Linked DNA regions of Homo sapiens: all the other regions are reported to be linked to region 1. The links are microRNA targets in miRTarBase. Many come from high-throughput screens and were not tested one by one. Region 1 holds a microRNA gene; each other region holds the end of a gene's coding sequence.

Region 1 (3,128 bases):
CTATTTTTTTCCTGATTTAAATCTGGAAAGTTTCAGTTGTAGTACAGTTTGAATAGTTGTTGTTGTAAATAGCCACTGGACTTTTTAAAAAAGTATTTTTCTTCAAAAACAGTGAAGGTCATCTTGTATCCATAGAGACCACATGTACTTTCCTCATTATTTCCAGCATTATTTATATAATGGGTAGAGTTATTTACAACATTAAACAAAAAGTATTTCAGAGAGCAACCGTTAAATATTATCACAGGGTAAATATCAGCAACTGAAATCCTTTTCTCATAGTTTCTCAAAAAATTTGGTATTAGGAAATTAATAGTCTCTCAGAATTTGTATATTGGTTTTCTTCAGTAGTTATTCTGTAGAGTGTGTGTGTACATATGCATGCTCATGTATGTATGTATGTTCATTTCTTAAATCATTTCATAAATCACTGTGACTTAATTGTGGACTTTAATTGTTTTCATAGTTTTTTTCCCCAAAAGAAGGTTACTTTACATATTTTATTTTATTTTTATTTTTATTTTTTTTGAGACAGGGTCTCACTCTGTCGCCCAGGCTGCAGTGCAGTGGCATGAGCTCAGCTCACTGCAGCCTCCACCTCCCAAGCTCAGGGATCCTCTTACCTCAGCCTCCCGAATAGCTGGGACCGCATGCACCACCACACCCAGCTAATATGTTGTATGTTTTTAGAGGTAGGGTTTTGCCACTTAGCCCAAGGCTGGTCTTGAACTCCGGGACTCAAGCGATCTACCCATCCACCTGCCTCGGCCTCCCAAAGTGCTGTGATTATAGACATGAGCCACTGTGCCTGGCAATTTTACATATTTTAAATTAAAGCAAATCTTGGTTTTTGATGGAATGCAGATTTACTTATATTTCACTTAGTCTTTTTCCTTTCTTTCAGAAAAGTGGTGTGGAAACAAAATGGTTTTAGTATATTGCCTTATAAACAAATTTAAGATCATGAGTTTCTTTTATTATCCTCTTTGTTTTGCTCATTTCCTTGAACTGTACATCCCTAACCTAAATCAGCTGGAGACAGGGGAAGAAAGTGTTAGATTCTTACTCAGTTTAGATCCTCTGCCAGGAAAACCCACTCTATTCATTGTCAACTAAATTAACGCTTTTTTAAATAAAAGGAGTCATTTTTAACAATAACGTCAGGGCAGCAGGCATCCATGAAATGTATGGTCACTGATCATTAGGGTTATCATTCTAATGTGTTTACTATTTTGAAACTCTAGGGAGAAGAAAACTTATTTTTGCATATGTTGGAAAAATGTATCCTCATGTAGGATATCAGGGTAATATCTTTAATGTTTCATACTTACCAAGATAAATTTGTAATGCGTATTTTCTTTTAAAATTAGATTTATTTAGGAGAAATTGCACTTGGTGAACCACTTTCTCTTTAATTATTAGCATTAACTTTATCATTTTTGTTTCAAGATGTCACAGCTATTGTTCAGCACTAGAAATTATATAAATTATTAGCTGAAGATGATGACTGGCAACATTTATGTCTGTTCCTCCTCTTAAATTTCTTGTTCAGAAAGTCTGTTGTTGTAAACATCCCCGACTGGAAGCTGTAAGACACAGCTAAGCTTTCAGTCAGATGTTTGCTGCTACCGGCTATTCACAGACATCCTCTTGATATAATTCTGTCCCGGAGTGGAGTTGAGGAGGCTATAAAATGTGTGGGAAAACCTCAGAAATCTTTAGCTGCATTCTTTTACTGCACTGACAGTGCACGTATTATGATAGTTGAATGTAGGGTGCTCTCCTAATAACAGGATATGCCGTCTCGAGCTTCCCAGACTTAGCGTGCTGCTGCTGGGCCTTAGAGAATTTAGTTAAATAAAAAGTGTCACCGCCTATTCCTGTTTCTGCCCTGTCAATGAAATTTTAGTCTTTATAACCTTTCCAAGTAGGCTGGAGTTTAACATCCCAACAATTCAGGAGACTGATTTTCTCCATTGTAAATTCTGTGGAAGTTCTGGAGAATAATTTCATCACTACCACCCAGCAGTATGCAATCTAGAAATTTCAGCTTTCCCTATACTTAAAAGAGATGTGTGTGCAACATTTTTCTCCGTCCTCTTAGCCCCCCACTTCCTGTTCCCCTCACCCTGAGTGATATTACAGCTCCTAATCAGAACTCTCCTCTAAGAAAAACTGCAAGACGTCAAGCCACTAAGCCTGTTTACATTTGCTAATGGGTATGCATGTCTTTTTATATTAATATTTTTCCTAAGTATTTTCAGATTGTTGCTTTCAGATTTATTGCTTCCTCCTTAAAATATAGCTGCCCTGAAAGCAGCTGTATTGTATCTATTTTTTGTGTTTCCCCACAGATCTGAATAATCCAGGGCTTTTCTCACAGATGACACTCAGTGTGGACTAATTGATAATGTATAATTTTATAGCAACTATTTTCTGAGTTTTAAAAAATTGTTATTTTATTTCTGTTAGTCTTTCAGACACTGGAAAACATTTCTATTTTATTGGCATTTTTCTTTTCAATAAAGCATTGGTTTTTTTAAATCATTTATTTTTATTAAACTGCTAAACATACTATGTTAGGTTCCATACATGATTAAACCACCAAAAGATAAAGGTCTTGCCAATCTAATGTATTTACATGCTTATTTTCTTTGATTAGATTATAAGCTTTCTGAGGTCAGAGACATTAAATCTTGATAATTCTATTTTTTCCTGTTATAAACAGCAAGTAAAGCACCTTGCATGTATAGTACTTTAGTAATGATTTTATATTATCTTATTGCAGCAGTGTCTACTGTTGCCTCTTATCTTTTATCCAGATGAGCAAATGACAGTTTTGGTCATAATGTAGTTACCCCAGATGTATTTGTGCTACAGCTTTTATTTTTTAAATGCTCTTTTGTTAGAGTAGTAGTTTATAAGACTTATTTGGGGATGGGGGTCAGTTGCTTCAGACTCAGGTGGCTTTCCAACTTGTAAATACAATTTTCAGGCTGGATGATTAGCATGCATCAAGCATCCCTTCCTATGAACTCTAAATAAAGCAGATTTATTGCATATTCTGTGGCCCTCTGTTTTAGCACATTGGAAACCTTAGACTCAAATAGCAGTGAAAGGATAGTTAT
Region 2 (3,076 bases), not on the chromosome of region 1:
TCCCTATGCCCAAGCTATATATACTCCAGACTAAATTAAAATCTTGGAGTTGTGGGACTGAGGTATCAGTATTTATTTTTTATTTTTTAGCAAGAAGAGGAGCACAGAGAATATTTTTTTAAAAATATAGAGCACTTCGGCCAGGCGCCAGTGGCTCAGGCCTGTAATTGCAGCACTTTGGGAAGCCGAGGTGGGCGGATCACTTGAGGTCAGGAGTTCCAGACCAGCCTGGCTAACATGGTACAACCCCATCTCTACTAAAAATATATTTTAAAAAATGAGTCAGGCATTGTGGTGAGCACCTGTAATCCCAGATACTTGGGAGGCTGAAGCATGAGAATTGCTTGAACCCAGGAGGTGGAGGTTGCAGTGAGCTGAGATTGTGCCACGGCACTCCAGCCTGGGCGACAGCGTGAAACCCTGTCTCAAAAAAAAAAAAAAAAAAAAAAGTATATATATACATACACACAGAGAGAGAGACAGAGAGAGAGAATTCATGAATTTGCAAGTCATCCTGGTGCAGGGGCCATGCTAATCTTCTCTCTATTGTTCCCATTTTATATACGTGCTGCCAAAGTGGGCACTGTATTTTTTTAGTTTCTAATGTGAAGCCATGTTAAAAACTGCTGTCCTAGATTGTGATGCTCCCAATGATAATCAAGGCACAGATAAGGAGAATTCTGTGAATAGGTTTATTAAGACCACCTAGGAGAACCTCTTTGGCAACTACCACAAATTCTAGGCCATTTAAAATCCAGGCCAAGTTCATATTTGCTCTCCATGATCACCATTACAACAACCACAGGTCACACAGTATTACAGAACAAAAGCATGGTCACTTTATTTTACCCAAATGCAAATCGTTTTTCACAACCAAGACTTTTTTCTTTCCTACAATGTTACAAATGATGTATCCAAGTCCGACTGTAATTTGGAGTTAAACAGGGATCATAGAACCAAGGAATTATCTCTGAAGCTGCTCTTTGGGCCACTGTGCCACCCCAACAGCTCTATCCTGTTGTTCTTTTTTTTAATTAAAAAATCATTAAAAAAAAAATGGAGATGGGGTCTTGCTATACTGCCCAGGCTGATCTTGAACTCTTGGGCTCAGACGTACCGATATACTGATCCTCCCGCCTCAGCCTTCCAAAGTGTTGGGATTACAAGTGTGAGCCATTGCACTCAGCCATCTCTACACACTGTTTTTCAAGGAAAGGCAGCTACACCTATTCCGTCTCCAAACCAACCCTCACCTGGTGTCCAGTTTTCTTGGAAGTCTCAATTTTTCTCATGACAGCACATTACCTAATACCTACCACATTAGGATGTTAACTCATAAAAACATACTACAAAAGCTTTAAAAAACATTTATTTGTATTAAGTAAGTGCAACAGTGCAAAGAAACTTATGCATTTGGGCCCTTGCTTCCCTACTGTTCACATTAGTTTAGTTTAGAAGATTAAGTATAATAACAGAAGGAGAACAGAAGAAATGAATATAAATATACTCAGGGTAGCCAAATCCTCTAATTCACTAAAGGATGAACCAAAGTTGTTGGCCAGATTCACATTTATGTGGGAGCCTAAACAAATTATGTTCCCTTTAACTGTTCTAGGCCTGTGGAAAAGGGAAGTGGACAACATTTATATTACAAGACAGTAATTTTATTGAAACATCTTTTTTTGTCTAAAACTATGCATGGAGATATTAATCTCTTGTTTATAAATTAGGTTAAGTCTAACATCACTATTTGAAACCAGTGTTATTTACAAAAATGAACCTCTTCTTTGCTTTATTGTTGGTTTACAGGAATAATTTTAAACCAACCTCAATCTATCTTTAAAAATCTTCCTGCCTTCAAATGCCCAGCAACCCTTATAAGGTAGGGGGCAGCCCTTTGACAGCAACATTCATCATTCACCAGGAATGTAGAACCACAAGTGAACAACAACAACAACAACAACAAGATTAAATCATTCCCAACAATTCCTATTTGCTTTTCCAAAGCATGCTATGTCTAATTCTGCCTTTCTATGCAGACAGGTGGGAGAGGGAGCCCATAGAGTATATTAATGTTAATTAAATTAACTTCCTTTAAAAGCTAACAGGATGGCTTAGTGTGGATGAGGATGAACTGCTGTGGATGACACTAGCAGATAATGAAGTAAACTTTAAACCCAGATTAGTAACATGTACTCCAGTAACTGACCAGCTCAGATAGAGACTTCTCATTTACTCTGGATCACATGTACAATATTTTACCTTCCAATTAAATATAGTGCCAAAATCTTTCAAAATAGATAGAGAATAGGCTTCTTAGAAATTCAAATAAAAATGTTAAATAATAAAAACTGGTGGCCTATTATAGAGTTTCTGACAGACTCCAATATACTGGGTACCAGAAAGTAACTCTATCTCAGATGCTAGTAAAAAGGTAAATTTTGTATATACATAAAAGACAATATTACGAGACTGTAGTGTCATTTGTCAAAACAAGAATATCTAGAATGGAATTTTCAGTAAACACTTGGGATGAAGGGCAATCAGAATACAAGAGGAAGCAAAATCCACATAAGTTAATTCCTAATTTGAGAAATCAATAGAATCAATAAATTGATAATTACTGTCTCCATAGGTCACGAATTCCAAAGACTAGTTAGTAGTTAGTTTCTAACTAAATGATTACAGGACGTTCTGATATATGCTGTCTTCTTGTGATCAGTTTGTTCTGGCAAGACTTCAACAAGCACTTGCCCTTGAAAACAGCTCAGCGGGAGAACGATCGGAGGCAATCACTTCGTTTTATAAACTAGCCAGATAATAAGTCCCAAGATTAGAATAATCACTGACAGGACAAGCACCAGGATACACATCTTCTTGCGAGATTTTTTCTGAGGAAAGAAATATGTAAACAAGATACTCATGAAACAAGTAAAATTTGTATGTGTAAGACTCTAAGAATGCTTCATAAATCTGCCTCCTTGTAATTAAAGATTAACTCTATCCATGCAAAATTATGCACAGACTTTCCCAGAAATCTTAAGTCAGCAGCACTAGGTAGTAGTGCAAGTGTTTT
Region 3 (3,076 bases), not on the chromosome of region 1:
ATACAAAATTAGCCAGGCGTAGTGGTACATGCCTGTAATCCCAGCTACTTGGGAGGCTGAGGCAGGAGAATCGCTTGAACCTGGGAGGCAGAGGCTGCAGTGAGCCAAGATCATGCCGTTGCACTCCAGCCTGGGTAACAAGAGCAAAACTCTGTTTCAAAAAAAAAAAAAAACACTACCCCTGAGGAAAGGGTGGCTGGTAGTAGCCATGGTGGTATGGTTAGGCAGTTTTTGATTTCCCATTTGTATTCTATTCACTAATCATAAATCGAGTGTTGACATTGTGGACAGAATGTAATTAGCTCCTTTTCCTGCAAAAATCTGTGCTTACCCTGTTTCTCTCTCATAGGACTGCTGTGTAAGCTATGGTGGCATGTGGTACCTTAAAGGGACAGTACAGTCTTGACAATAGTAGCAAACTACTAACCCAGCAAATCTAAGCCCAAGGAAGAAGGGCGGAACCAGAAGTAGGGCCTCGACTTGCTTCAGACGACACAGAGCAAGAGGAACTGACCATCTCATGACCTGTGGCATTGCACGGTGCAGTGGACAGAAGGGATTATCCTCAGCCAGTCGCAGGGTCAGCTTAAGTTAGTTAGATCACTCCCAGAAGAGACCAGCTGGGACCTTCTTTGCAGTACAATTTGAAATTCCTGATGTATTTTGCTTATTATTTGGTTTCATTCTCATAATAAAGAGAGTGTATACTGACATGGGCAGGATGATAAAAATCATGGTTTAATATTTTCTTTTGTAAACTTAATGCCAACAAGGTCTAAGTTATGTTTACAACATGAAGAAAACCTCAAAGTTCTTAATTTTTAAAATGCCTAGAAGACAATATTTAGTCTTGGATTATCTATCTGCTAAGACCTCCACCAATTTCATTAAACCAAATTGAATTATTCTATTCTTGGGATTCTGTGGCCACTTCACCTTTGACAACAACCTACTTTATGTAGCAGTCTCAACTGTTTACATGAACCATAGCAAAAAAATCAGAATCAAATCCATCTCCTTTTAATGTTTGCAGAAAGATGCAAACAAAACCAGGTAAGTATGGAACAATGTGTAAGTGAGGTTATCACACTTTGATGTAAAAATTTCTATTTTGTGTATTTTTAAAATAAATGCAAACACTAAACTAGCATCATGGTGCTATCTTCAAATGGTTACAGGAAGGCGATCTTGTTGGGCTCAGCGTTACGTGTATCTAGAGGGAACGGAGCTAATGGAGGAAGACAGAGCAGCACTGTCCACTAGAAAGAGGCGAGTCACGTACATAATTTTGAAAGTTTCTAGCAACCACATTAGTTTAAAAAGGTCATGTTAGCATATTATTTAGCTCAAAATATCTAAAACATCAACATAAGGTAAAAGTCTTCAAAATCTGGCATTTTACACTTTCCTCAACACTCAGTTTGGACTAGCCACATCATAAGTGCTCCGATGCCACATGGGGCTATTTGCGACAGTATTGGATAGCACAGCCCTAGAAACTGATGGAAAAAATAAGAGTAAGCTAGGTTGGATGACATGTGAATTTTGGTATCTAGATAAGGCTTTCGCCATCTTTTTTGTACAACACAGTCACTAATTGTCTGAAGGTTTAAATGACGGTCTATGCTATTTCCCCACTCCCCCCAAAATAAAACATCTAATATTTTAGCTATAGAATCACTAAGGCATTGATCAAGGATGTACTTTGCCAAATAAGTATTTGGTAACATCACTTAACAAGTTGATCGTGTATTGATTCTGTTAACATATGTGAACCTGAAAAGTAAAGTTACCAAAAGCGATTTGGAATATGTCTCAGCTTTTCCATCCTACTTCCTTCTCACTTTGAAAGGGGAAATGCTCATGTGGGACGGCACAGAATGTTAGTCCCATCACCTTGCAGAACTTAATTGGCTCAGTGGAGAAGTCAGAGCCTTAAATACTTTACATTGATAAAAAGAACTGGTTAAAACACCAAACTCAAATAGCAAGAAAAAGAAACAAGGAATATAGGAGGGAACTATTGTTTTAAAAAAAATTGAGGGAACTTGGGATGTCAGAATAGGACTTTCCAGCACTCATCCCCCTGCAGAAACATGAATTTAAACAACTGTCCACACACAAAAATACCTTCACAAGAGTTAAGGAACCTCTAGAGATTACAGCACCTTGGTGTACCACAGAAATAAGATGTACTAAAGAGGATAGGAGGGACAATTTTACATTACCTAGCTTACCCCCTCCCCAGCCCCAGGCAGCACAGGGTGGAGAGAGAGAGAGAGAGAGAGAGAGAGAGACCCTCTACTTGGAGGAAGGAGAACATTGGACCCCAAAATCATGCCAGCCCCAGACTCCAGGCCTGCGCCAGGAACACAGGCTCTAAGCATACCCACTGCCAGGCCTGCACCCATGAGCTCACACTCTAGCAGGCACCCCCTCCCCACCCTGGTCCAGCCCCATCTGAGTAAACCCCAGCACTGGGCTGGCCCTCACAGACTAGGCTCCAATATCCCCTGCAGCCCCAGGTTCTAGGCCAGCCCCCATGGCCCCAGGATCCAAGCGAGCCCTCAGAGACTAATCTCCAGGCCAGTATCTATATACCCCTGGCTCCAGGCTGATCTATATGCCCCCATGCCAGCACCCACAATCCCAGGCTCCAGTACAATACCCCTGGACCCAAGGTCCATGTGTGCCTCAGCACCAGGCTCCAGTGGACCCAGGTTCCAGGCACATACCTCAGTAAGCCTCAATGCCAGGCATGCCCTGGCGGACTGAGGCTCCAGAACAGTCCCTATGGACCCAGAACCTAGGCCCACCCCTGCAGGTTTTTAGGCTTCAGGTCAGCTCCCTGGATGCAGGCTCCAGGCCTGCCCTTGTGGACTCAGGCTCTGGTTGTACCCCTGCAGACCCAATCAACTGGCCCACTCCACTGGACCTACGTTCCAGGATTAATCCTATGCATGCAAGCACCAGGCTCATCCATCTGCTGACCTAGGTACTAGGTCAGCCTGCTCAAGGACTCCAGCAACAAGCCTGCCCACAGAAGACCACACCAGACAACTTGCCCAGAATCTCT

Evidence for each region. The annotated mature microRNA hsa-miR-30d-5p reads UGUAAACAUCCCCGACUGGAAG and lies in region 1 at 1,565-1,586, shown strand. An mRNA with a match to its seed (bases 2 to 7 or 8) in the 3' UTR can be bound and repressed. Matches are read on the target gene's strand: a 7mer-m8 pairs with bases 2 to 8, a 7mer-A1 pairs with bases 2 to 7 and ends in A, and an 8mer does both.
Region 2: the mRNA of STX12 is a reported target of hsa-miR-30d-5p. Seed matches in the 3' UTR shown: 7mer-m8 at 2,520-2,526.
Region 3: miRTarBase lists POLR3E as a target of hsa-miR-30d-5p. Seed matches in the 3' UTR shown: 8mer at 784-791 and 8mer at 973-980.

The regions. Positions count from the first base shown.
Region 1 is chr8:134,803,377-134,806,504 of GRCh38, reverse strand. It overlaps MIR30D (microRNA 30d), which reads left to right and starts at 1,560; the gene lies at 1,560-1,629. It also overlaps a transcript of ZFAT not described here.
Region 2 is chr1:27,822,046-27,825,121 of GRCh38, reverse strand. It overlaps STX12 (syntaxin 12), which reads right to left. Exons shown (of 9, transcript NM_177424.3): 9 at 679-2,891. The coding sequence ends at 2,793. It also overlaps the pseudogene RNU6-1245P. Among named protein-coding and RNA genes, the nearest start is that of PPP1R8, 7.2 kb to the left of the region's middle.
Region 3 is chr16:22,333,295-22,336,370 of GRCh38, forward strand. POLR3E (RNA polymerase III subunit E) reads left to right here. Exons shown (of 21, transcript NM_018119.4): 21 at 350-1,802. The coding sequence ends at 406. LOC124903664 (a long non-coding RNA gene) reads right to left here. Exons shown (of 2, transcript XR_007065026.1): 2 at 616-3,076. Among named protein-coding and RNA genes, the nearest start is that of POLR3E, 37 kb to the left of the region's middle.